7 linked regions of the Homo sapiens genome follow. The protein of the gene in region 2 interacts with the protein of the main gene of each other region in a pairwise test. Each region holds a gene or a part of one and is shown on either strand. Other genes may lie near its edges. The genes, in order: IDH3B, MAPK6, SMS, TTK, SEPTIN5, SUSD4 and RAP1GAP.

What was found.
Region 1: the proteins of MAPK6 (region 2) and IDH3B interact in a two-hybrid assay, tested with the Homo sapiens proteins (one large-scale study listed by BioGRID and IntAct).
Region 3: the proteins of MAPK6 (region 2) and SMS interact in a two-hybrid assay, tested with the Homo sapiens proteins (one large-scale study listed by BioGRID and IntAct).
Region 4: the proteins of MAPK6 (region 2) and TTK interact in a two-hybrid assay, tested with the Homo sapiens proteins (one large-scale study listed by BioGRID and IntAct).
Region 5: the proteins of MAPK6 (region 2) and SEPTIN5 interact in a two-hybrid assay, tested with the Homo sapiens proteins (one large-scale study listed by BioGRID and IntAct).
Region 6: the proteins of MAPK6 (region 2) and SUSD4 interact in a two-hybrid assay, tested with the Homo sapiens proteins (one large-scale study listed by IntAct).
Region 7: the proteins of MAPK6 (region 2) and RAP1GAP interact in a two-hybrid assay, tested with the Homo sapiens proteins (one large-scale study listed by BioGRID and IntAct).

The regions. Positions count from the first base shown.
Region 1 is NC_000020.11:2,661,417-2,665,523, reverse strand, and holds the start of IDH3B (isocitrate dehydrogenase [NAD] subunit beta, mitochondrial isoform a precursor), read left to right. Parts: upstream 1-1,307; 5' UTR 1,308-1,335; coding exon 1,336-1,371; intron 1,372-1,518; coding exon 1,519-1,599; intron 1,600-1,765; coding exon 1,766-1,864; intron 1,865-1,957; coding exon 1,958-2,078; intron 2,079-4,107. UniProt on the Homo sapiens protein: Plays a structural role to facilitate the assembly and ensure the full activity of the enzyme catalyzing the decarboxylation of isocitrate (ICT) into alpha-ketoglutarate.
Region 2 is NC_000015.10:52,017,888-52,022,018, reverse strand, and holds the start of MAPK6 (mitogen-activated protein kinase 6), read right to left. Parts: upstream 2,801-4,131; 5' UTR 2,643-2,800; exon of another isoform or gene 455-2,642; intron 1-454. UniProt on the Homo sapiens protein: Atypical MAPK protein. Phosphorylates microtubule-associated protein 2 (MAP2) and MAPKAPK5.
Region 3 is NC_000023.11:21,975,209-21,978,708, reverse strand, and holds part of SMS (spermine synthase), read right to left. Parts: intron 1,649-3,500; coding exon 1,473-1,648; intron 750-1,472; coding exon 595-749; intron 1-594. UniProt on the Homo sapiens protein: Catalyzes the production of spermine from spermidine and decarboxylated S-adenosylmethionine (dcSAM).
Region 4 is NC_000006.12:80,035,649-80,039,148, reverse strand, and holds part of TTK (dual specificity protein kinase TTK), read right to left. Parts: intron 2,675-3,500; coding exon 2,550-2,674; intron 1,183-2,549; coding exon 1,102-1,182; intron 1-1,101.
Region 5 is NC_000022.11:19,717,503-19,720,660, forward strand, and holds part of SEPTIN5 (septin-5), read left to right. Parts: exon of another isoform or gene 1-1,235; coding exon of another isoform or gene 1,236-1,316; intron 1,317-2,099; coding exon 2,100-2,196; intron 2,197-2,303; coding exon 2,304-2,390; intron 2,391-2,612; coding exon 2,613-2,736; intron 2,737-2,817; coding exon 2,818-2,952; intron 2,953-3,046; coding exon 3,047-3,158. UniProt on the Homo sapiens protein: Filament-forming cytoskeletal GTPase. May play a role in cytokinesis. May play a role in platelet secretion.
Region 6 is NC_000001.11:223,221,177-223,224,676, reverse strand, and holds part of SUSD4 (sushi domain-containing protein 4 isoform a precursor), read left to right. Parts: intron 1-1,045; coding exon 1,046-1,428; intron 1,429-2,456; coding exon 2,457-2,485; 3' UTR 2,486-3,500. UniProt on the Homo sapiens protein: Acts as a complement inhibitor by disrupting the formation of the classical C3 convertase.
Region 7 is NC_000001.11:21,599,858-21,603,357, forward strand, and holds part of RAP1GAP (rap1 GTPase-activating protein 1), read right to left. Parts: intron 3,057-3,500; coding exon 2,947-3,056; intron 1,983-2,946; coding exon of another isoform or gene 1,941-1,982; coding exon 1,827-1,940; intron 1-1,826. UniProt on the Homo sapiens protein: GTPase activator for the nuclear Ras-related regulatory protein RAP-1A (KREV-1), converting it to the putatively inactive GDP-bound state.

The sequences.
Region 1 (4,107 bases), on a different chromosome or scaffold from region 2:
CAAATGAAGTATGACTCACAAGCCTGCACTTTTAACAAGAGCTCTGGTCCATCTGGATAGGTGATCCAAAACCATACTTCCAGAAGAGCGGGTGAGGCAAATCTTCCTGTACCAGTTTGTCTTTAGGTGTGTCAATTGTACACACCTAAAATCGTGACTGGAGGCCGGGCTTGGTGGCTCACGCCTGTAATCCCAGCACTTTGGGAGGCCGAGGCGGGCGGATCACGACGTCAGGAGATCGAGACCACGGTGAAACCCCGTCTCCACTAAAAATACAAAAAAAAAAAAAAAAAAAAAAAAAAATTAGCCAGGTGTGATGGCGGGCGCTACTCGGGAGGCTGAGGCAGGAGAATGGGGTGAACCCAGGAGGCGGAGCTTGCAGTGAGCCGAGATCGCACCACCGCACTCCAGCCTGGGCGACAGAGCGAGACTCTGTCTCAAAAAAAAAAAAAAAAAAATCGTGACTGTAATTGTTTTGAGACGGGTCTCGCCCCGTCTCCCAGGCTGGAGTGCAGTGGTGCCATCACGGCTCACTACGGCTTCCACCTCCCGGGCTTAAGTGATCCTCCCACCTCAGCCTCCTAAGTAGCTGGGACTACAGGTGTGTCACCACGCCTGGCTAATTTTTAAATTTTTTGTAGAGTCGAGGTCTCCCTATGTTGTCCAGGCTTTTTTTAGTTTTTATGATTGTTACTTTAAGGATCAGTCTGAAATTCCCTTTAGTCACACTTACACGCTTGAACTCATTTCTGACACTAGTTATGGGCCTGTCCTGGGGAGTTCAAGTCCGGGACACACTATTAGGGAAATAACTGTCAGAGCAAAGAACAAAACCCTGTAAGAAAAAACTACGAGGCGACGGGTAATACAGAGGTCCTGGGCACTCTCGGAGACTGGCGGAGAAACCCGACACACACCTCCCATGTCTGTACTGTATTCCTCGAGAGCCTGACATACAGGTATTCAGTGAGTACTGGTTAAAAGAATAACAAACGCATTGACACACAAATTTTAACAGCTTCCCAAGGATTTTCTCTCAATCGCTTGTTAAGCTCAGGTCCTCGTCTGATAAACATGACGCTACATTTTTCCCCCTAATGTTATTTTGAAGTTTCGACGTAGATTAAATATGGCGACTGAAAACAAAGCAAGAGACAAAGTGCTTGCGCATCCCATGACCTCCCCACCGGCAAGGAAAAGGAGAAACAGGCGTGAGCAAGCAGTGCTGGTTGGCGCAGAGAGAGAAATACCAGGAACTCAGTACAGGCCGGAAGTCGGGGTACGGGGCCGCGCCAGCTTCAGGCGTCACTTCCCACGCGACTTCCTGCGGGAAACATGGCGGCATTGAGCGGAGTCCGCTGGCTGACCCGAGTGAGGCCCCGGGACATGTCGGGCAGGGGCGGGCGAAGGAGCGGAGAGTTTGTCCTAGGGTTTCCTAAACAGGGCAAAGTCAACTGTAGTGTTCGGGGTCTGGATGTCTCAAAGCTGACCTTACAGGCTTGTGTGTCCCTGTTGCAGGCGCTGGTCTCCGCCGGGAACCCTGGGGCATGGAGAGGTCTGAGTACCTCGGCCGCGGCGCACGCTGCATCGCGGAGCCAGGTATGCACGAATCTGGCTGGGGTCTCTCTTACGACCCTGTCCCTTCCTCGCTGCTCCCTCCCCTGGCTTTTCCCCACCCCTCCCGGGTCTCCCTACTTCTCTACTCCCAGGATCCGTGCTCCCGCCCCAGCTCTATCTTTACTTCTCCCCTCTTCCCCCAATTGAGGCCGAGGACGTGAGGGTGGAGGGCTCCTTTCCCGTGACCATGCTTCCGGGAGACGGTGTGGGGCCTGAGCTGATGCACGCCGTCAAGGAGGTGTTCAAGGTGAGTGGCCTCGGGGATCAGACAGTAGAGGACAGTAGTGTGTTGGAAAGGACTTGGCCTTGACTGTGATGTTTTGGGAACCTGTCTCTGAAGGCTGCCGCTGTCCCAGTGGAGTTCCAGGAGCACCACCTGAGTGAGGTGCAGAATATGGCATCTGAGGAGAAGCTGGAGCAGGTGCTGAGTTCCATGAAGGAGAACAAAGTGGCCATCATTGGTATGTGTGCCCTCTTGCCACTTGTCCATGTGCCATTTAAAATCAAATGACCAAATGTTTATTAAGCCCTTCTCCCCACATGCTATGCAATTATATTAACTCCAGGGCAACCACCATTGGTATTTGGACATTTGTTCCTTCCCATTGGGAGCCCAGGAGTTGAGAGATCATGTCAGCTGTCTATGCAGAAAAGTTCCAGGGGTTCTGAGTCTGTCCTGAGGCTACATCAACTGTCATCAAATCTTATTCATTGCATTTCTGGAATACCACTTTTAGCTGCCCCTTTTCTTTTTTTTTTTTTCCCCTCCCTTCCTTCCTCTTTGTTTCTTCTTGCTCTGTCGCCCAGGCTGGAGTGCAGTGGCGCGATCTCGGCTCACTGCAACCTCCCCGTCCCTGGTTCAAGCAATTCTCCTGCCTCAGCCTCCTGAGTAGCTGCGACTACAGGTGTGCACCACCACACCCAGCTAATTTTTGTGTTTGTTTTGTTTTAAGACAGAGTCTCGCTCTGTCGCCCAGGCTGGAGTGCAATGTTGCCATCTCAGCTCACTGCAACCTCTGCCTCCCGGGTTCAAGTGATTCTCCTGCCTCAGCCTCCTGAGTAGCTGGCTGGTATTACAGGAGCGTGCCACCATGCCTGGCTAATTTTTGTATTTTTAGTAGAGATGGGGTTTCACCATGTTGGTCAGGCTGGTCTCGAACTCCTGACCTTGTGATCTGCCCGCCTTGGCCTCCCACAGTGCTGGGATTACAAGTGTGAGCCACCATGCCCAGGCTAATTTTTGTATTTTTAGTAGAGAGAGGGTTTTACCATGTTGGCCAGGCTGGTCTCGAACTCTTGACCTCAAGTGATCCACCCACCTCTGCATCCCAAACTGCTGCGATTATAGGCGTGAGCCACCGTGCCTAGCTGCCCCTTTTCTTTTGTCTTCCGCGCTTTAATCTCCTCATTTGATTTTTTTGGCTTCTAGTTCTGCCCCTATAGTTCATCTTCCATATCTCTTCTTGGAAAGAACAGCCTGATTTTCCAGGCCCAGCCTTACCATAGGAAAGTCAGTACTTTATAAGTTGGCCCTTAATTTTCTGCCTTGGTTCCACAACTCTTGTTCTGTGCTTCAATCACACTAGATTGTGTGTTAGATTCCAAATATGTACTACCTGACTTATATTGTTCCCTCCACCCAGAACGTTCTTTCTTTGGTGCTACCTGTTAGAGTCCTTCTCACTCATTCACTGTATTAGTTTCCCATAGCTGCCGTAACACACTACCATGAACCTGGTGGCTTATCATTAACAGAAATGTATTCTCTCACAGTGCTGGAGGCCATCAGTCTGAAATTAAGGTGTTGGCAGGGCCCTGCTCCCTCTGAAGGTTTAGGGGAGAAACCTTTCTTGCCTCTTCTGGTGGCTCTTGCTGTTTTTTGACTTGTAGATGCATCACTCCAATATCTGTGGTTTTCTTCCCTCTCTGTCTCGGTATCATTTTTCTCCTCAAATATTTAGCCCTGGATGGGACGATTTTTTCTCAAGATCCTTAACTTAATTACATCTGCAAAGCCTCTTTTCCCAAATAAGGTCACATACATAGGTTCTGGGGCTCAAGGCATGGCTGAAGTGCCAGCTCTTCTGTGCTGTATCCTGATATTACTGGAGAGGATTTCCTCTTTGTGTTGCTATGCAAGTTTCCCATGGTACTTATCATGTCTTTCATATTTTCTGTCTTTCCCAGTGTACCGTTTGCTTCTCAAGGGCAGGAGTTGTATGGTTTTAGTTGTTATCCTTATTGCCTGACATATAATTGATATTCATCAGTAGGTGTTGGGTTAAAAAATGTCAAATAAGGAGAAGGCACAGATAAAAAGATCACAGATCTGCTAGCATTGTTTTTCAACTTGTTGTTAAACCCAGGCTCTTTTTTGATAAATAGAAAAAATCTGTTCTCCGTTTTGAAGTTTCAACATAAATTAAATATGTTGACTAAAAATAAAGCATTAAGGCCGGGGCGGGTGGATCACTTGAGGTCAGGAGTTTG
Region 2 (4,131 bases):
ATCTTTTTCCCCCTCTCAATCTTATTTTAAGCCACCTTGCTAAACGTTGGCTGTTTTAAAATCAGTCAAAAGATTTATCTTATTACCAAGTTTCAACTTAGAACTGTACATTCAGCTTATCTTTAAAAAAAAACCATGAAAAATAGTGACTAATACCTATTTCAAATTGTCTTTATTAAAACAGAAAATTCACATAAATCACAAAGCACAATATATAATTATGTTTTAATAATTCTGAGTGAAACTTTCATATTCAGAGCCATATCTGATTAAATATTAAATATAAAGATAACTTTCACATAACCAATAAAAACATAAGGTCAATTTCTACCGACACCATAAAAGTACTATCTGTCCTTTATAAACAACCTGTAACAAATCTCTCTCAGCAGTAGCCAAAAAACTGCTAGTATCAAACATTTAATTTCAGCACCTGACCAGAAATTGGTTTTACCTTTCCTCTCAGCAAATGTTACACAATTCCACCTGTAGGGTATATGATATCCTTTTAAAATGCAATTTAAGAAGCCATTACTTTTTTAGAGAAACTGCTGTTCCTCTTCAGAAAAAATGAGAGAGAATTTCAATGTGGACAGGAACATTTTAGCCTATCATTTAGAAAAAAATACAGTGTATTTAAAAAAAAAAAAAAAAAAAGCCACGTAGCAGTCCGTGGGCAGCATGAGTCATCATCCAACTCAAAACTTGCAGCAGCACTTGTAAGCTTCCTCCTACCCGACCCCCATCCCCTTCAGCAAAGTACCCTGAGTCAGCAAACCTTACTATTTTGTCAGTTATGATTCTCACGATGCTTTAAATGAATTTATGTAAAGCACTGCAACACTTTTAGTGCTAACATTAGTCTTTAGAATGTGTGCATTTTTTTATTACAAAATTAACTGACTTCAAATCACTCTTCTCTGGATTTTTTAATAACAGAAAGTAGCCAACGACTACTTCTAATCCTCTTTTGCAAATAAATGAATTCCAGAATATCCTCATATACGAAGTTTTTTCTAAAATAGTCTCCATTTTCCAGTGTTTTCTTCTCAACAGTAATACCTAGGTGATCAAATATGTTCTGCTCAAATCTGGCATATTTTCTAGATTAACTGCAATTACTGAATTCAGGACATCAATGAATAATTTTACAAGCTTAAGGCAATTCTTAATAAATGATGTAACATATGTGAAATGACTTTACAATCCCTGGCACATAGCAAACACTTCATAAACATGTTTGAACAACTACTATCTAAAGACAAAGTTCCTTTCACCCAATTCAAAATTATTTTTTAAACATTAAAATCTGATATTTCTATGAAGAAATTCCTGATTTCAGGGCCAGGCCCTGTTTGGACCCTACATTCTTCTGGTCAGATCATTCTTTCCATCTCAGTTTTCCAGCGTTAAAGAGGGAGGACATGTGCAATTGGAACTGTAAGAGACAGGCTAGAAGAATCAGCCATCAGAAAATTACTCTGAAGCTGCTTGCTCTTCATTGTATGGCGTGTTAATTTTTCCCCTTGACAAATCATCTGTATCCGTTAAAAAAAAAAAAGTCATTACTGAGACTGCATCTTTAGCAATGAACACGAATTCTGCCGTTAATACAAGTAGGCTTCTAATTCCAACTCACCAGTCCCTTTCACTGGACCTTTTCCAATGAACAAGCAAAAGAAAAAATAAAACAGGAAAGGAATCAAGAAGCTCCCGCTGCACAGAGATCCCCCTAACACCTAAACCGGTTGGGTCCTACACTCGCCAAGAAACAAAAGGATGCCAAAACACCTTTACTTTTCGACACAACTCACAAGGCGGACTAAAATGCACAGCAAAGTGACAAGGCCCTTTTTGGTGAACCGACAAAACAAGCTTTCATTTGGGCACTTTTACAGACCACCACTTAAGGTCCCGAAAGAAGCTAAGGAAAGACTGTAGGGCCGAGGGAGGAAATTAGGAATTTCGTCTCCGAGTTTTCAGTACCTCATTCATGGCAAGACTCAAAACTTGGGCGGACTTCAGGGCTCTGAGACGAGCCGGGTGAGCGCTGCGCGCTACGCCACTGGAGACTTTGCCCGGCCGGAGTCAGCTGAGGCCGAGTCACCGGGTGGGATGGGGGAGGAGACGCGGGAGCATTTCGAAAGGCAGCGTGCCAGTAAGGCGAGACTCCACGCCACCTCATGTTCCCCGGGCCGCCGCCCCTCGCTCGCCCGCCCTCCGGTCCGGTCCGGCTGGGTTTCGAACCCGCGGAGCCAGGCGCAGGCGGCGGGACGGCAGCAGGCGTGCGGGGCCAGGGAGCGGGCGCGGCCTGGCAGGGCGACCGGCGAGGGGCGTGCCGGGTGGGAGGGGCGCGCTGGCCGCCTGGCCGGCCCCACGCGGGGACCCCAGCCCGCCGCCCGCCCGCCCGCGCGGGGACGCGCCGGCCAGGCCCGAGCGGGCGGGCAGGCGGGCGAGCAGGGGGCGGGCGGCAGACCGAACAAAAACGCCTTTGTTGAGCGGCAGCCGCCGGAGGGTCACACACAATGGAGGAGGGAGCCGGCTCCGCCGTCGCCGCCGCCGCCGCCGCCGCCGGGCCCGCCGCGGCGCCCTCCCGAGCCGCCCCGCCGGCGCACCCCGCACACGTACACACACACACTCACGGGACTTCTCCGACTCATCGAGAGAGTGCGGGGCTCGCGGACTGCCCCCAGTGTCGGCTCAGGTCTCCGGCTGTGCTGGCGGCAGCGGCGTCTCCGAGGCTCTCGCTTTGCCGCAGTCGCCGCCATGTAACCCCGACCCGCGAGAGAGGGCGAGGAAGAGGGGGCGGGGCTTCGCGGTGCCACGCCCCCTCACGTCACAGGCTCACTCCACGGGTTCTCCCGCCCCCGCCCTGCCCAGCGCACCCGCACGCGCCGGAATTTCCAGCGCCCGTGACTGGGCTGCGCGCGCCGCGGAGGCGGTGGGAAAGGCACGCGGCTCGTCCGGCGTCTCCTGGGGGCTTTGCCTGCGGGCGGGCAGGGAGGAAGACAGCTGGGGCCGTTTGCTCTACTACCTGCCCTGGCATTAAGGGAACAAAGTGACCAAACCCAGTGCCAGCGTTTACTAAGCACCTACTACGTGCAAGGCACTGGGCAATCCGAGAGGAAGAGGCCTCAGTCTCCAGGAAGGGTGGACCTTAAGATGGATTGGCTGGAAGGCGACAGCCCGAGCACAAGACAGACGCGTTAGAGGCCAATACTAAGGTCATTCATTCTGCCAGAGTATGGAGGAAGGCTTTCAGGAGTGGTCGCCAAGGTGGCCTTTCAGCTGGATCCCGGAGGAGCGGATATAACCAGGAGGTGGGGAGGGTGTTTCTGTGAGCAAAGACTGGGAGGCCAGAGTACCTGGCTTGTTGCAGGAACTGGGATAGGACAATTTGAATTTGGGAAGGGATGCACTATGAAACGTAGAAAGGTGGATGGGTGCCTTCTTGGGCCCACTTGGCTAAAAGCAAACTTACATTACTTATCATGGCTTATTGAGTCCAAGGAGCCTTTTCAGTGTTTATGTGAAATTTAAGTATTTATGAAATTAGAGACGCAGGTCAGCATATTTTTTCAATGACTTCATCACCATCTTGCTGAGAACCAGACATAGAATAGCCCTTCTAGTCATTATTATGGGCATCTTCAAGAAAGAGGCAAAGACCACTTCAAAAAGATCACAAAGGGCCAGGCGTGGTGGTTCACGCCTGTAATCCTAGCACTTTGGGAGGCCGAGACGGGCAGATCACCTGAGGCCAGGAGTTCGAGACCAGCATGGCCAACATGGTGAAAGCCCCGTCTCCACTAAAAATACAAAAAGTAGCCGGGTGTGGTGGCTCACACCTGTAATCCCAGCTACTCGGGAGGCTGAGGCAGGAGAATAGCTTGAACCCCGCGGGGGGTTGCAGTGAGCCGAGATCGCGCCAGGACACTCCAGCCTGGGCGAAAGGGCGAAACTCTGTCTCAAAAAAAAAAATCACAGAGTAATGAAGTTAAGTGGTTGGGGTGAGCTTGAATGCTTTATATTTTTTAATATTTAAAACAACGTCAGCTGAGTACCAGGTGTGAAGAAGAGGTAATGAGTGAAAAAAACCAAGAGAAAGGGGAGACTTGTTCCAACCGCAGA
Region 3 (3,500 bases), on a different chromosome or scaffold from region 2:
AAAAGGAACTTAATCTTCTTTTCTCCTCATGAGATGGCTTTAGAGAAGCCATTTTGGAAACTGCTAGGCAGCAGACACAGTATCAAAGTCCTTTGCTCTTTAATCCTCAACTAGGTAGATTATTTGTTTGTTTTTGAGACAGAGTCTTACTGTCACCCAGGCTGGAGTGAAGTTGCGCAATCTTGGCTTACTGCAACCTCTGCCACCTAGGGTTCAAGCAATTCTCCTGTCTCAGCCTCCCGAGTAGCTGGGATTACAGGTGCCCGCCACCATGCCTGGCTAATTTTTGTAATTTTAGTAGAGGTAGGGTTTCGCCATGTCGATCAGGCTGGTCTTGAACTCCTGACCTCAGGTGATCCACCCGCCTCGGCCTCCCAAAGTGCTAGGATTACAGGCATGAGCCACTGTGCCCAGCTGATTATTTCTTTGTTGATGGCCACATAAAAGGGTACTGTTACTAAATTGTCTGTTCAAGGCAGTCTAGGTAACACATTTGCCTCTAGTCTGTGGTAACATTAATTTGAGTTGTGAGACACTGAAGGAAGGAAACAAAAGAAGCCCACTGAACTTGTTCTCTTATACAACAAAGGATATCTCTACCATAGTGACCATCTTTGGTTTTAGTTTGACTATTTCACACAATATGCCTCCGTCTCCACCTCCCAGAATGAGTACATCTTTGCCAGTGTAATCTTCTTTGCCACTGCCCATGATGGCCCGGGTATATGCCAAATCACTCTCTGCCAAATCTAGGGAGGAGAAACAGATCCAAATGGTGAGTCTACCTTAACACACAAACCACCTGGCCCCACCACACTGAAGAGCTGGGATCTAGACCAAAATGTAAATTTTTCATTTTCAATTTTTTAAAACTGTGAACAATTTGCAAGCTTTTTTTCCATTGAGGACTTTTTCATCAACCCTGATCATCTGACACCTAATACAAATGGACATTAGTCAGTGGGAAGAAAATCCAGCCTTAAAAATGTGTCAATATACCGAATAACTAAAAGCAATTACATCTTTACAAATGAAATAATATGATGTCTGTGAGCTGCTTCAAAATAATATGAGAGGGACAAAGTGGACTGGGGTTTAGGTAAAATAAGACTGGCTAGGAGGTGGTAATTGTTCACACTCGATGGTAAGTACATGTGGGTTCATCACACTAGTTTGTCTACTTAGGTTTGAATTGTTCTGTAACAAAAAGGTTTTTTTTTTTAAATATGCAAATGCATTTTCTTTTGAAATACAATCCAAATACTCATCACTAAGGAAGCAATGTCAAGACAAAGTTTATGTGAAAGCCCAGACAATCCACAGGTTAATATGACATAAATGTGCATCTCAAAAACCAGCAGTGTCAAAAACAAACTCAAACAAATCCACGACAGTAGTAATTGTCAGGAAAACACCATCATTCAACACATCACCACTTTGTTACGTGATCGGGGCAGGGATGGAATACTTACTAACATCCCCACTAAGGATGAGAATATTTCCAAACTGCTTCGAGTGTAGAATTTTTATATTTTGATAAGGTGAATCTTCGTCATATACCACTTCATCTATGTCATATTCAACCAGGCGCCCGTCGGCGGTGGGCCAGTATCTGTCGATGGCTCCTCCTCGCACTATGGGTGGTAATCTGGAAAAAGAGAAAAACAGAAATGTACCTTACTAGAACACTGCCTTACAAGTGGAGCTAGGATGAAGAGTGTGCAAAAGAAAGCCACATGACTGCCGACTTTTGACAAGCACAAAACGAATCCAAAGCTTGGGCTTTTAGTTTTATATAATCACGGCCACCACCAAATGTTGACAACTATTGTACACAGTTCACTTTTTAAAAAATCCTGTCATGCTTTAGATTTTCTCTAACAAAAAGCTGAAGGAGAAGATGGCCACTGCACACTTCATATTTCAAATGCTCCAGCAGCATCTGTCTCTTAAGACTATCTACATAACTACATGGACATTACCACATTTACACCAGTTCACATGGGTATGATATGGTTATCTAGTACAGAGTCCATCTTCAAGTGTCCCCAGTTATATCCTTTATAGATGTTCTGCTCTTGAATAAAGGCTCATACACTGCATTTCCCTGTTTTTTTTTTCTTTTTTATCCTCATGTAACGTATAATTTTTTTTTTACTGGTATGTTTCATGACACTGATATCTCCAAGTACAGACCAGCTATTCTGCTGAAAAATGACTCGTGGGTTTACCTGATAATCTCTCACTCTTCATGGTTAGAATCAGGTTGACATATATTACACAGGCATCACATCGGGAACACAAGATGTGTATCTGTCCTATTATTGGTGATGCTAAGTCTGTGATCACTTGGTTAAAGTGGTATTCATGGGCTCTCTCCATTTGCAAAGGTACCTTTTTCACCCTCTGAAATTACTAAGCAGGCTGTGGGGTGGTGCTCTGAAACTAGGTAGAAGTCCTCACCCCCCAACAAACCTTTACCAGTGGTTTTAGCATGCAGAAGATTCTGGCCTGAACCAGTTACTACTACAGAGGCTGCAAAATGATGATTTTTTCATTCATTCTTTTGTAAATACCCGGTATTTTTCACAGGATGAATGTACTAGAAGGTACCAGCAGAGGACACTAAATGACAGGAAAAAAAAGACCTGGAAAAGGGGCTTGGCAAGTCTAACCCAAACACAAAGAAAACGAGAGCTCACTGCATACATAACACAACTGCGTGAGTCATGTGTTCTCAAACACAGTAGTGTTCAACATTAAAACGCCATGATGTACAGCTGTAGACATGTAAAATGCTGGGATATGCGGCCTGACGTACTCTTATGAGTCTCTTTCCCTTCCCTGCTCACCAGCTTCCAAGAGTACAGTCTAAACCTGTTACAAGTTAACAAGGCTTTCTATGAGGGAATACTAACATCTATAAAGAACACCGAGATTGAAAAGGCAAACTCCCATAAATTCATGTCATCCTGACAACTCTTCATTTAACCACTTCTTCACCTTCCATGTGAACAAATTCAGCTTTCAGAATGTGAGGCATTCTAGAGGGTTTTTCTTGTAAATTGTAAAATGTGAAGCACCAATCAGGACAACTGCTAGAGAGCAGGCGAACAGGACTTGGAGGAAGCCTCTTCCACCCCTGGCTGATGGTGGGGAGTGAGGTGAGAGTGAGCCACCCATGGCATTGGATGAACGACAAAGTCACTCACTTCCAGGGGAGGAAGACTACCCTCTCCTTGACAGCCAGCCACCTATCGGCAATTACTGCACTACAGGCAAACCCACTGAAACTAAACAGTGCCTGTTCTCAATTGTGTCAATAGTGCCTTGGCTAAGGTGAAGAGCTCTTTCCTACATTGTAACTCTATGGTTTTTTTAAAGACTAGCAAAGAAAGAAGGATCTTAACAGGATGTAAATGCCATTACCCTGATGAAGTGCTCAACCTAGCATTAAAGGGCATCTCGCTGGTAGCCCTATAACGGGCTACCAGGAGGTA
Region 4 (3,500 bases), on a different chromosome or scaffold from region 2:
TCTTTTAAATAGAATAGTTATATCTAAGCCAATTACACAATTCCAATCATTTCAGCTATTTCAAGTAAATAATTAGTTATATGAAATTAATATTACCTTTAACATATCTTGAAGATGTGTTACTAACTGGTAATGCTATGTGTCTGTTTTCTCAACTCTGATATAGAAATTATAAAAGTACATTGTCATGGGCATTAAATGATAAACCATAAATATGGTTAATCATAGAGAAAAGTTTCTGGTTATCACAAGTACTCAAGTTGTAAAGCAAATGAAAATAGAGTTGATAAATGAAGTCAGGAACTGCTTATTTAAGAAGAACAAAACCACAGAAAGTCTAATAAAAACACAAGAAATTTAAGTTTTAGAAGAGTGGAGGCTAAACAAATATAAAAAGAATTTTATGAAAACATTTGGCAAAATTGTATGCCAGTTATTTGAAAAACACTTACAAGCCAGATTTTCTAAGGAGGAAAATAAAATTTAGTAAATAAAAACACATTTATCAAGCAATGATTCTGAGCTGGATAAATGTACTAAGTACTTTATATATTCTTTCCCATTTAATCCTCAATTTATTTTACAATAGGCACTGTCTATAGGCACAATTTAGAGACAGGGAAACTAGGCAAGTCACTTGGCCAAAGACAGTTGTTAATGAAGAGGCAGATCTATGACTTGAATGAATACAGGTCCCTGGGACAATGTGTGCTTGCACCCACTTGGTTACACTGATGTAGAGAAAGAAGGGTTAGCCTGGGAGCCCAAGGCATCAAGGTAGGCAAAAGGAGCCCCGGACAAAGGGCACCCATGAGGCTAACGCAAACTCATCGAGGTAGCGAGATAAAGTCAGTGGAAAAGTAGCCAGTGGCAGGCCAGAAAACAATTACATTCTCCAGCTGTACTTGGAAATGTAGAATTCACAAACGAATAAGTGGTGAAAAATAGTAAGAATTGGAAACGAAAAAAACCAGCAATGTCTCTGTAATGGCCTAAAAAGTTTTAGAACTTAAAGAAATTGTTATCTGGTAAGTTTATTCAGAAAATAGTGCATTCCCTACTGTTGCCAGATAATTGTGATGTAAATAATCTTTTCAGTACCTTTGACTTAGATTTCCCATTCTCTCTGGAGGAAGACATATCTTTGATTGCTTCTGGTGGCATATAATTAACTGTGCCAACCTATATGCCAAGTCAGAGAAAACACAAATCAATGAAAATATTTAATTCTGCTTTAGATTTTTTTTTGAGATTATTATTATTATTATTATTATTATTATTATACTTTAAGTTTTAGATTCTTAAAAATACAAATGCCAGATCCTTGGAAACTTGGGTAATTATAAATTTCAATGATATCCTTGCAAATTTCAAATAACTGCTGACAACGTTAAGATATATATATCAAATTTCTTCACAACTGCAGCAAAACGAGTTGGGTTCATAATCAGCAAAGTGACTCCTTTCAGAATGCTGTGCTTTTTCTATGATTATACTGGGCAACTAGTAAAGCCTGCCCTAAAAACTCTCCAGGCTAAAATCCTATTAATGGCCATAAACTTTGAGGCCATTGAGGGACTTACCATTCGTTTCTTGTTGTAACATACTCAACTTTAAAAAAATATATTTTTTAAATAAGCCCACCAATATACAAACAAAAATACCATCTAGCTTTGTCTCACAGTAGTCCTCTGAGTTTCTACAGTAGGATATGCCAACCTTACAATGAGCTCATTTTCTTCTAAAATACATGGTTTGCTTTAAACACAGAATATATCTACTTTAGGGCCTTGACATGGAAGATATTGTCAAGCTGATTTACAACTCATTGATCTGCCATACTTTTGATACAAAGAGACATGACTGTCAAATAGGGCATGTCGTCCATCATTCCTCCTAACAAAGTCTATTTTACTCCTGGGATTAAGGTGGACTCACATCAAAAATCTGTAAACATGGAACATATCATCTTGGTTCCAAGCAAGAATATCTTTTAGATATACTTTGGTGCCATTGCTTTAGTTTTTATAGAACAACGTCTTTTAGTTTGCTGTTGCAATATCTATTATAAAAATGTTGCTTATAATACTTATGGCATTTACAATATGAAGGCCCACTTAAGAATTTTTTTTCCAATTTCAGTGATAGGAAAAGGTCGGCTTCTCTAGAAGAATAAAAATGATCTTACCTCATAGACAGTGAAAAACATATAACTGCAACTCCCTCTTTGCTACAAGGAAACTCTGAGCCAAATTTTCAGGTCAATTTTTGATCACGACCAAGTGATTTCCAAGGAAGGTATTACTGTTTCTCTACTTCAGCTATAGGAAAACCATTCACAATTGCTGGAGATATTACTATTTGATCTTGACTTTCTATTCTACATTACAATGATCATGGTTTATATTTTTAAATCTATTCTTATTAAAAGACTTCAAATCCTTTGAAGAATGAGGTGATTAAAAATATAACACTCATTTGCAATATAATACTTCACAGGTAAAAAAAGAATTGAACTCTACTGTGAGAGAACCAACATTAAGTCTTACCTGAGAATCTTTAACAACACTTGTTGTATCTGGTTGCATTTGGTTTGCAATCCCAAAATCAATTAGCTTTAGCATTCCATCAACTATCAGAAAGTTAGCTGGTTTAAGATCACTGTGAACAATGCCTTTAAAATAAAAATCCACTGTAATATTAAACAATGCAAAACATTCTAAGGACCAAAAAATTCACAGTCTACAGGTCAAGCTGTATTTATTCCTTCAATTAGTGAACCCAATTCAATAATTTTTTTATATATTCTGCAAATATTTACATAGCACTTGTTATGTGCCAGGCACTGTTCTAAGTTCATTGTTTATACAGTACTGCATCATTTAATCTTCACATCAATGCTGAAGTATTATCATCATCCCCACTATAAGGCAAGGAAGCTAAGGCAATGAGAGTTTAAGTAACTTGTACAAGGTCACACAGCCTAAGTGACAGTTAGAATTGAAGCCAGACAGTCTGGCTTCAGAATCTATCCTCTTAACCACTGTGATTCACTGCCCACTAGAGAGCATCACAAATTATACTGCCAGACAGTAAGACCCTAATGCTCCTGACATCTCCACCCCTATAGCCCTGATCTTGATCACTGGTGAATTATCTTTTAAGATAATTTAAGAGAGAGAGATGAGGAGGAGATAAATTACAATTAACTAGGATAACAGTTATTAAGAACAAAAAAATATATAGGATAAGGTAAAGGCAGAGAAAAACCCTAAAAAGAACCAAGGACAAGTAAAAACCAACCCAGAAGGTAGGCCTAACAGTAAAAAACAAACAAAAAAACCAACTTCTCACACAGGGCATACAATACAAAATGATTAGGAGAATGAATAAAGTAAACATCTCATATTTTCAGGATGCCTGAACCCCAAAGTCTTAGACCTGCTATAATCCAAGTATTTGGAGATAAGGATGACAGACTACGTTAATACTGAGAAAAA
Region 5 (3,158 bases), on a different chromosome or scaffold from region 2:
ATCCCACCCCCACCCCTGTCTCTGAGGGCAGGGCCACCTGAGGGCTGCAGGGCAGCGCATGGGTGGCCGGCGTTTATTCAGCAGGCTGGCGGGGGCTTCCAAGTTTTGCAGGGACCTCCAGTACTCCGGCAGCCTGCACCCTTCCTTTCCCTTCCCTTCCCTTCTGTCCACCCTAAGCCTCCTAGGGGACAGGCAGGCTGGACTTCAGAAAAGGTGGGCTCTGCCCTCCTCCGGTCCCCCGAATGTCTTGGGAAAGAGTCCACCAAACACACATGCACACACCCGCGCACACGCACATACCCAATGCATGCACACACGTACACACACACGCATACACGCATGTATACACGCGCACACACGCAGGCATTACACACACACACATTACACACACACACCCGCACGGACGCGCACACACAAACGCGCGCACGCACGCACGCACGCACGGGGGAGGTCAGCCCCAAGCAGGGCTGGGGAGGGGTGCAGGGCGCGGCGTGTCTGTGGGCACTTGGGGCGTCGAGACGCCGCCGGGAGGTTTTCGGGCAAGTCTGCGAGAAGACGGCGGGCCCTGAACTGGGCGGGTACCCGCGCTGTTGCGCGTGGGTCCCGGGAGCGGCCTCCGGCGCCCTCTGGCGGGCGGAAGCCGCGCAGCACCTCTTGGGGGCGGGACGCGCGGTGGCTACCGACTCCCGGCCCGCCCCGGCCCGCGTGCAGGACCCGGTCGTCCCCTCCTGCTGTCCTGGAGCCCGGACTGAGGCCCCGGGGGCGCGGCAGGGCTCCCGGTCCACGCGAGCCATGGCCCGACCGCGCCTCGGCTCAGCCCTGCCCTCCGCAGCCGCTTTCGGGTGGCTCCGCCCGCGGCCCAATTTCCAGGCGACCGTTTCCCGGCGACGGCGGGCGGGGCCGTCTCTGCCGCCCCCCGCCGCGCGCTCCGCGGGCGCCTGCGACGCCCCGCCTCTGGCTCGGGTGCGGGAGCGGGGCCTGCCCGGACTGCGACGCCGCCACAGCTTGGGGCCAGTTCGCCCAGTCAGGGGGATGGCTCGGTCGGCCTCGGGGGTCGACGATCCCCCGGGTAGGCGACGTGCCCTGTCCAGGCCTCACTTCCCGCGTCCGCAAAACGGGGTGGACAACGCAGCCTAAGGCAGAGCCGCGCCAAGGTCCCTCGCTGTCGCCGGGCTCTGGCGGCCTGACCGGGCCTGGGGTCCGAGCGTGCCCCCGGGCCTGGGGGGGTCGCCGCGATGGACTCGCTGGCAGCGCCCCAGGACCGCCTGGTGGAGCAGCTGCTGTCGCCGCGGACCCAGGCCCAGAGGCGGCTCAAGGTGCGTGTGTGGAGAGGGCGGAACGTGGGTCTGTGACCCCGCGGGCTCCGGGACTCGGCATGGGGTCCCCGTCCCCGCGCGCCACGGCCCGCCAGCGCCTAGGCTCAGCCCTTCCCTCCGCAGCGGCCTCGCAGGTCCGCGGCCCCACGGTGGGGCGACGTGCCCTGTCCAGGCCTCACCTCACGCGACTCCAAAACGCGGCGGAGAATGCGGCCGTGGGACCCCTCCAGGGGCCCCAAGGGTCTGCGGGGGCTGGGCGCCTGGGCGCGCGGGCGGGGGAGGCTCGGCGCCGCGGTCTATAAATAGGCGCTGCTCCGCCACCGCCGCTGCCGCCGCCCCCGCGGCTGGATCCGGGCCAGGTGGGGCCTCCCGCCCCCTGGCACTCTCCGGAGGGGTGAGTGTCGAGGCCCCCAGCTTCTCCGGCTTATGGAGGGCCTTGAGTGTGTCCCAGGGGTCCCAATCCTGCTGCCCTCTGCCCGAGGAGGGAGGACATCGCCTGTGCCTGCTGCGGCCTGACATCTCCCCACGGAATAAATACAGTGTCGGTCCCTGCAGAGCCCTCCCTGGGATTGGGGCCAGGGGTGCCTTCTCCTGCCACCACCTCGCCTGCCTTCTTATCTCCAGGCTTTTGCCCACGGGCCCTCCCCTTATTTTTGCCAACGAAATGCCCCACCCTGGGAACCGTACCCTCTGCTGTCTCCTCATACCGCATTTGGTAAGAGACAGGGTATTGGGCTTCTGGAGAAACCTTTGTGTCCCTACCCTGTTCCATCCTGTCCCCAGGACATTGACAAGCAGTACGTGGGCTTCGCCACACTGCCCAACCAGGTGCACCGCAAGTCGGTGAAGAAAGGCTTTGACTTCACACTCATGGTGGCTGGTGAGTGGGCCAGGCTCCTCGGGGGAGTGGCTGGGGTCACTGGCCAGCCAAGCTCTGTCGTTGGAGCCCCAGACCTAACGCAGCTCCTTCTCTGTACCTGTGTGCAGGTGAGTCAGGCCTGGGGAAGTCCACACTGGTCCACAGCCTCTTCCTGACAGACTTGTACAAGGACCGGAAGCTGCTCAGTGCTGAGGGTGAGTGGCCCCCAGGAGGCCCTGGCACTGATCCCCAGTCCCCTTCCATGGGACCTCTCCAAGGACTCCCTTTCAGGTCCAGCTCCCACTGTTCTGTTCTCGCGGTGTGGGTCCCCTGGGGGTAGGGCCAAGGCACCAAGATGGATGAGGACGAGGGTCCTGGCTGCCAAGGGTGAGGGGCTGAGGGTTGGAGAGGCCCTTCCAGTGGCCCCTTCCCCGTAGAGCGCATCAGCCAGACGGTAGAGATTCTAAAACACACGGTGGACATTGAGGAGAAGGGAGTCAAGCTGAAGCTCACCATCGTGGACACGCCGGGATTCGGGGACGCTGTCAACAACACCGAGTGGTGAGTGAGGCCTGCTGAGAAAGGCCTTGCCTAGGCGGCCACAGCACTCGAGGCCTGGCCTCACCTCCCTCCTGCCCACAGCTGGAAGCCCATCACCGACTATGTGGACCAGCAGTTTGAGCAGTACTTCCGTGATGAGAGCGGCCTCAACCGAAAGAACATCCAAGACAACCGAGTGCACTGCTGCCTATACTTCATCTCCCCCTTCGGGCATGGGTGTGTGGCTGTCCTGGGGCCAGGCTCGGGAGTGCAGCCCCTACAATATGGCCCCCTGGCTGTGCCTATGCCCACCCTTGGCTGCTCTCGGCAGGCTGCGGCCAGTGGATGTGGGTTTCATGAAGGCATTGCATGAGAAGGTCAACATCGTGCCTCTCATCGCCAAAGCTGACTGTCTTGTCCCCAGTGAGATCCGGAAGCTGAAG
Region 6 (3,500 bases), on a different chromosome or scaffold from region 2:
CACGTGAGGGAGCCCTGCAGACATGCAGACTCACTTTGCCGCCGCTCCTGGAGCCCTCACACCAGCAACCCGGGCCTTGCTTAGAAGAGTGGCGGGGGGTCAGGAGGTGGCGGTGAGCCTGCGTAGCTTGAACGGGGTAGTGACATAGTGCTCACAGCTTTCCTTTTTTTTCCTTCTTTCCTTTTTCTTTTTCTTTTTTTAAATCTAGACTAAAATGTAATGATTTTTATACTGAATGCAGAAAACAACAAAGAAACATGATGAGCATAGGGCCAGCTAGTCCCTCTGGGCACTGAGGGTCCACAGTTACTGTTTTTTGTTTGTTTGTTTGTTTGTTTATGAGACAACATCTCGCTCTGTTACCCAGGCTGGAGTGCAGTGGTGCGATCATGGCTCACTGCAGCCTCAAACTCCTGGGCTCCAGGGATCCTCCTGCCTCAGCCTCTTGAATAGCTAGGGCTACAGGCACGTGCCACCACATGTGGCTAACATTTTTATTTTTTGTATAGGCAGGGTTTCACTATGTTGCCCAGGCTGGTCTCAAACTCCTGGGCTCAAGCAAAACCTCCCAAAGTGCTGGGATTGCAGGTGTGAGCCACCACACCTGACCTATTTTCTGTACTTTTAACAGTGCTATCCCACTTTCAATCCCATCCTACAGGACACTTCAGAGGTGCACTGGGCTGCTCTGTTAGAAAGGGTTATGTTGTCCCTTGCTCCATGAGCTTATGGCCAGAAGGCCAAAGCCCACAGGTCAAAGGAGCAAGGGAAAAAGCATGAGGAGATAGTAAGGCCCAGAGGCAGGAGGACACGAGAGAGTGACAAAAAGAAAACCTCCTCTCTCCGGAGCATGGGCAGCCGGGATGGCAGCATCATCTTCCAGAGGAGTCCCTGAAAGGAGGCTGGTTCTTCCATATTATCCTCCATACGGGACTCTGCTGCCCATCGTGGGTCCTGAGGACCCCGAGTGCAGGAGGGAGTATGGGTGGCCTCATCCCCAGAGTGGCATGGCTCTCACATGTTGGCACTTCTTTCCTTTACACAGGGGGCCTCCCCGGAGTTCCAGCAGTGACCCTGACTTTGTGGTGGTAGACGGCGTGCCCGTCATGCTCCCGTCCTATGACGAAGCTGTGAGTGGCGGCTTGAGTGCCTTAGGCCCCGGGTACATGGCCTCTGTGGGCCAGGGCTGCCCCTTACCCGTGGACGACCAGAGCCCCCCAGCATACCCCGGCTCAGGGGACACGGACACAGGCCCAGGGGAGTCAGAAACCTGTGACAGCGTCTCAGGCTCTTCTGAGCTGCTCCAAAGTCTGTATTCACCTCCCAGGTGCCAAGAGAGCACCCACCCTGCTTCGGACAACCCTGACATAATTGCCAGCACGGCAGAGGAGGTGGCATCCACCAGCCCAGGCATCGACATTGCAGATGGTAAGTGCTTGCCCCAGGGCCCAAGCCACACCTGCAAACACCTCCGCACCAGCATCTTCAAGCCAGCTCCTTGCTACGCACGCTCCACCCCCCAGCACAGAGTCGAATCAATCTGTTTACCTCTCACTCAGCTTAAATTGCTTCATGCTCTCTCTCCATGTAGAGGCCTTGGGCAAGGCCAATTATTGTAGGGAATGATCATCATCTTGCAAGTAATGAGCCCATTAATGGAAATTTCAAGAGGCACCAAAAGGCATCGAGCCATCCAGAGTAGAAAGGCAGCAGTGGCCGGTGCTTCATTTTTGTGGTGTCTGTATGATCTGGAATGTATTTCTTCTTTATTCCTTAATTAGATAGGACTCCTGGAAGTGGGGCTTAGGGACAGGATGGCACATACATGCCAGGAAGAAGGATCCAGAGGCACGCACTAGGGCCCAGCAGTGTGTTCTAGCCCCAGAGTTCTGTGTACATAGAAGTTATTTTTACCAGATGTGAAGTAAAAGATGCATGTGTACCTGTCACAAGGAAGGGTAGATTCATGGTAAAATAAGGAAAATGTGTCAGATTGATTAGGTCTCTGTTTCCTACAGAAGGGGAGCCCCAGTGCCACTTTGCAAATGAGAGCACTAATTTGGCTTATATTGAGAGTAAATGGCAGTAATGACGTGGAAACAGAGGTCTCCTGGGCCACCACAGTGTTCCTTTTCTGCAAACCACGCTGCCTTTCTGTACTTGAATTTGCAACTTTCTGGCTTGTGTGACCATTAAGGCCTATGGTTAAAATGTAACATTTTATTTTTTATGAACTGGAAATAAGATCATAATTGTTTCCTGGCAAAGAACAATTGTTACAGAAAGATGTTGTATAGGAGGTTGATTTATTTGGTTATTAACTGGTATGTGGAACTTAACATTTTCTTCTCCTCACTGATTTGAGAAACTGTAGATATTTTAATGAGGCATATAATTCCAGATCGTCATGGTGTTTTCTGGTTATGTTAAGCTAATAACCGTCTCTTCTTTTACAGAGATTCCTCTAATGGAAGAAGATCCCTAATATGGGTCAAGATCCAGATGACTCTCCTGCTCCTTCGGGGAAAGGACCTTGTATCTTGGAGTGAGGTCACAGAAGGATAGAGCCTGGGGGCAAAATGTCTAACTTGTCTACATGGGGACCACAGTTCACATTATGCATCTCAGGCTCCACAGTGAGGCTGACAAACTGCAATGGCAGTGCTTTTAAATGAGATTTGAGGATTCACCAAGACCCATGGGGAACCGGGGCAGCAGGGAAGCCCTCGCGTGGTCTTGGATGAGGGGTGTTAAATGTGTATCGTGCTGTGGAACATGGGACAATTCCACGCACATCCCACCGAATCATCACGCATCCCATTGACTGGCAAGTACTCCCCGCCCCCTCTGAAAGCATGTCACATCATGTAAATTTGCTTCTAACATCTGCTTCAAACTGTCTCTGGACTCCAAATTTGGATGGGTCAGCCTCTGCAGAAAGTTTGTGTTGAGATGCTGGAAGAACAGCAGAGCCTCCTGCACCCTCAGCAAGGGACCAGCTCCCAAAGGAAAGGTCCTTGTGTGACATTTGGAGAATCTTCCTTCATCCAGACAACTCTACTCGAAGCAAGACGAAAGCAGGATGTGGCAGTTGCAGTGAGAAAGGAAAGGAAAGATGGGCAGACTCTGCTTTCTGGAAATTTCTTCACAAAGTAGAGCTCATGAACTCTGTGCTGTCTTCTGGTAACATATCATCAGTGTTTGTATTCATGGTGTGGCACATGGATCCATGGCATTGGGTAAATCTGGTGGTTTTTACACATGGTCAGAATGTGTTCAAATACATCTCATGATGGAGACAGTAACCAAGGTAATGTTTTGTTTCAGCATTTTAAAAAGACTCCACTTAACATTTATCTCAGAATCATGAGCCTCTCTCTAGTTGACAATTGTCATTGTTCCCCCAGCCCCAAATTGAACCATACATTTATTTTCCAAAACAGAAATTGTTTCTGTAAACATATCCGACCTTCAAAAGAAGTGTGAGGTTGGATTTTTCC
Region 7 (3,500 bases), on a different chromosome or scaffold from region 2:
TCCTGGCCTCCCATTTCCCCAGGTAAAGCACAATATCCTTGGCGTGGTGTTCAAAAACAGCAGCGGTTAGCGACACTAACATCATCGGGTGCACGTTCACTCTGCACCGGGCACTGCTCTACGTGCCTTTACCTGAATTATCTTATCGCTATGATTATTATACCCATCTTCCAGATGAGATGACACCAGGCACAGAGGGGACAGGCACACAGCCCAGGGTCACTCAGCACAGGTGGGAGGGCAGGGGTTGAGGTCCAGGCAACTCCACAGTCTACTCTCTTAATCCCACAAGGTTTTCATGCTCAGGGCCTCTATGCCTCCTGCCTGGAGTCTCAGTCCTCTCAAATCCCGAAAAGCAAATGTGCCTTTAAAAAATCAGCCTAGGGCTCTCGCTCCAGGAGTCCTTCCCTGATTCCTCCTCCCAAGGTGAGAATGACCCTCCCCACTCTGGCTCCTGCATACTGCGTCTCCCTGGTCCCTGCCACCCTTTCCTGCCTCTCTGTTCACCTACCCGGCTCTTTAGCCTGGGCTGAGTCCTCTTGATTCCCACAGAGCCCAACACAGAGGCAGCTCAGCCAACGGACACCAAATGCAGGGACAGTTTCCTCACTGGCCTCTCTGCTTCCATCCCACCCCACTCCAGCCTCTTTGTACAGCAACCGAAGTCAGCTTCTTAAAGCATCGCCCTCGTAATTAAAATCCTCCCAAGGTTCCCTGTCACACTTAGGATAAAAGTCAAAGCTCTTAGGCTGGGCGCAGTGGCTCACGCCTGTAATCCCAGCACTTTGGGAGGCTGAGGCGGGCGGATCACGAGATCGGGAGATCAAGACCATCCTGGCTAACACGGTGAAACCCCGTATCTACTAAAAATACAAAAATTAGATGGGCATGGTGGCGGGCACCTGTAGTCCCAGCTACTTGGGGGGCTGAGGCAGGAGAATGGCGTGAACCCGGGAGGTGGAGCTTGCAGTGAGCCGAGATTGTGCCACTGCACTCCAGCCTGGGAGACAGAGCAAGACTCTGTCTCAAAAAAAAAAAAAAAGTCAAAGCTCTTGTACAGCCTGCTAAGCTATAAGCCAGTGTCTGCCCACCTCTCCAACCTCCTTCCCGCCACCACCCAGCACAATGTCACAATGTCTGTCCAGGCCCAGCCCCTCAGATACTCTTTTTTTTTTTTTTAAGCAATGGAGTCTTGCTATGATGTCCAGGCTAGAGTGCAGTGGCTATTCACAGGCATGATCATAGCTCACTGCAGCCTCCAACTCCTGGGCTAAAATCATCCTCCTGCTTCAGCCTCCCAGGTAGGTGGACTCCAGGCATACGTCACCACTCCCAGCCACCCTTCTTTCTGTCCCTGGAGTGTGCCCCAGGCCTCTGCACTGGCCGAGCTCCTCTGCCATGCCAGTCCTAGCAGGGCTGGTTCAGTTCCCAATTCAAATGTCACCCCATGGAGGTGTCTCCCCGAGGACCCATCTAAAACACCTCTGCCCCCAGTCCCTCTTCATCCCCCCAACCCTGCTTCGGGTTCCTCCTATCACCATGATCCGGCAACAGCCTATGAGGCCGCGTTCTGATGGACCTGCGGCCGTGAGGCGGGGACCTATGCGCAGGGCACCTCTGTGCTCCAGAGCCGGGCGCGGGGCTGGGCGTGCACAAAGTGCTCGCTGGGTATATGTCAAAGGAGGGCCCCAGAGAATGCCCAGGTCCCCCTGACACCCTGCTGTGGCACAGTCAAGGCTCCTGTGCTGTCCCGGGCCCAGGCAGGGGAGGGGAAGGACGGTTCACCACTCCCAAGCCCCCAAGCCCCACGTGCCCTGAGCCCCAACCTGTTCTTGGTCGTGGGCATCTCTGGGGAGCTCTGAGTGGATGAGTTCTCCGACTTGGGCTCCTGTGAGACGTGCCCGCTGTCTGGGGTCTTCTGACCAGCCGGAGGGCTCTCCCTGCGGGGCACACGGGGGCAGCGGGGGGATTCAGCACCAGGCCTGGCATCAGGCGTAGCGTGAGGCCCAGGCGGTGAGGGGAGTCACGGTGCCTCCTGCCTCATACCCACGCCCCTATACTCAGGGCCAGCCCTGGAGCAGTCTTGTGGGCTCCCTGGCTAGCCTGGCCAGTGATGGGGTTGGCACTGATGGGGCTATATGGGACAGGATGGGACTCCTCCCAGGTCCTCTCCACAGGAGCAGGTATAGCTGTCCCATTATGGATAAGGAACCTGCCCAGGGACGCACAGCTAGGACGTGGCAGTGCCAAGACCTGAACCCAGGACTCACAGCATGCGGAGCTCTGGCAGCAGCAAGGACAATGCCCACTCCCGTCCTGGAGCCCTCTCAGGGGACCTGGCCCTGGCCTCACACGCAGTGCCCTGAGTCCCCACAGCAGCCCCATGCCATGGGTTGTGTTCTTGTCCCTTTTCCAGGTTGGGACAGTAAGGCTCAGAGGAGGTCAGTGACTCGCCCAAGGTCACACATGGTTAATATCGGGGAGGCAGCCGGGAGCTAGCCTCTGATGTCCGGGGGCAGCCCTGCTGCTGGCCTGGGCTCACTGCCCTCATGCTGCCCACACTCATGGACCCCCCAGGCCCATCTGTGGCCACCCTGAAAACCAGCACTAGGCCCTCCCACATGCGCTGGGGCCGTGGGAAGAGCACGGATGCTGGCCCTAGACAGATCAGGGCTCAGATCCTAGCTCTGCCCATCACTGGCTGTGTGATCTGGGCAAGCCCCTTGACTCCTCTGACCTACCGCTTCTTGATCTGCATGTGGCACGTTAGGTGACGTGCTGGCCCTGGTGCCCGACACGCAGCAGGGACTTGACCACACAGCTGTCACTAGTGGGGATGGAGAGGCAGAGGGGCGGGCACTCCCTTCTGCCTGCCTTGCTTTGCCACCGAATGGGGCTCAGGGATGGGGATGCAGGGGAATGGGGCACTGTCCCCCACTCACCCACCTCTTCTCCTGCACCTCCTGTATGTTCTCGATGCCAATGGCGCTGCTGCGGCGGGAGCCGAACGGGCCCGACTTCTTCCTCGTGGGGCTCTTCCCAGGGACAATCAGTGACTGTGGGGAGAGGCCCCAACTCAGTGCCACCTTACCTGGGAGCCCCAGTGCCCCCCCCACATCCCCTCTGGGGATCCTGCTGCCCCAGGCCCTGAAGCAGAGTTGATGAGCAAGAAAGAACGAGAGAAGATATCCATTCCCAGAGACAGCCTCCCAGTTTACGAAAGGGAAACAGTCCCCAGGAGGGCAAGGGGCTCTCCCGAGCTCACACGGCAGGACTGCACGTCAATACTGGCCCAGGATTAGGACAGCATCCTGAGGGGGCTAGGGTGGGAGGAGGCCGAGTCCTCAGAATGGCTACCGCTCCCCGCCCCCCAGGGCTCTGTGGGATCTGCAGCCTAAGGGCAGTGGTCAGAGGGCAGTGTAGCAACCCAAGTCCCACCCCGTGCCAGCTAGGGCCCCTCCCCGGAACCTCCAAATTGGCTGGGGGAGGTTCTGGCCCAG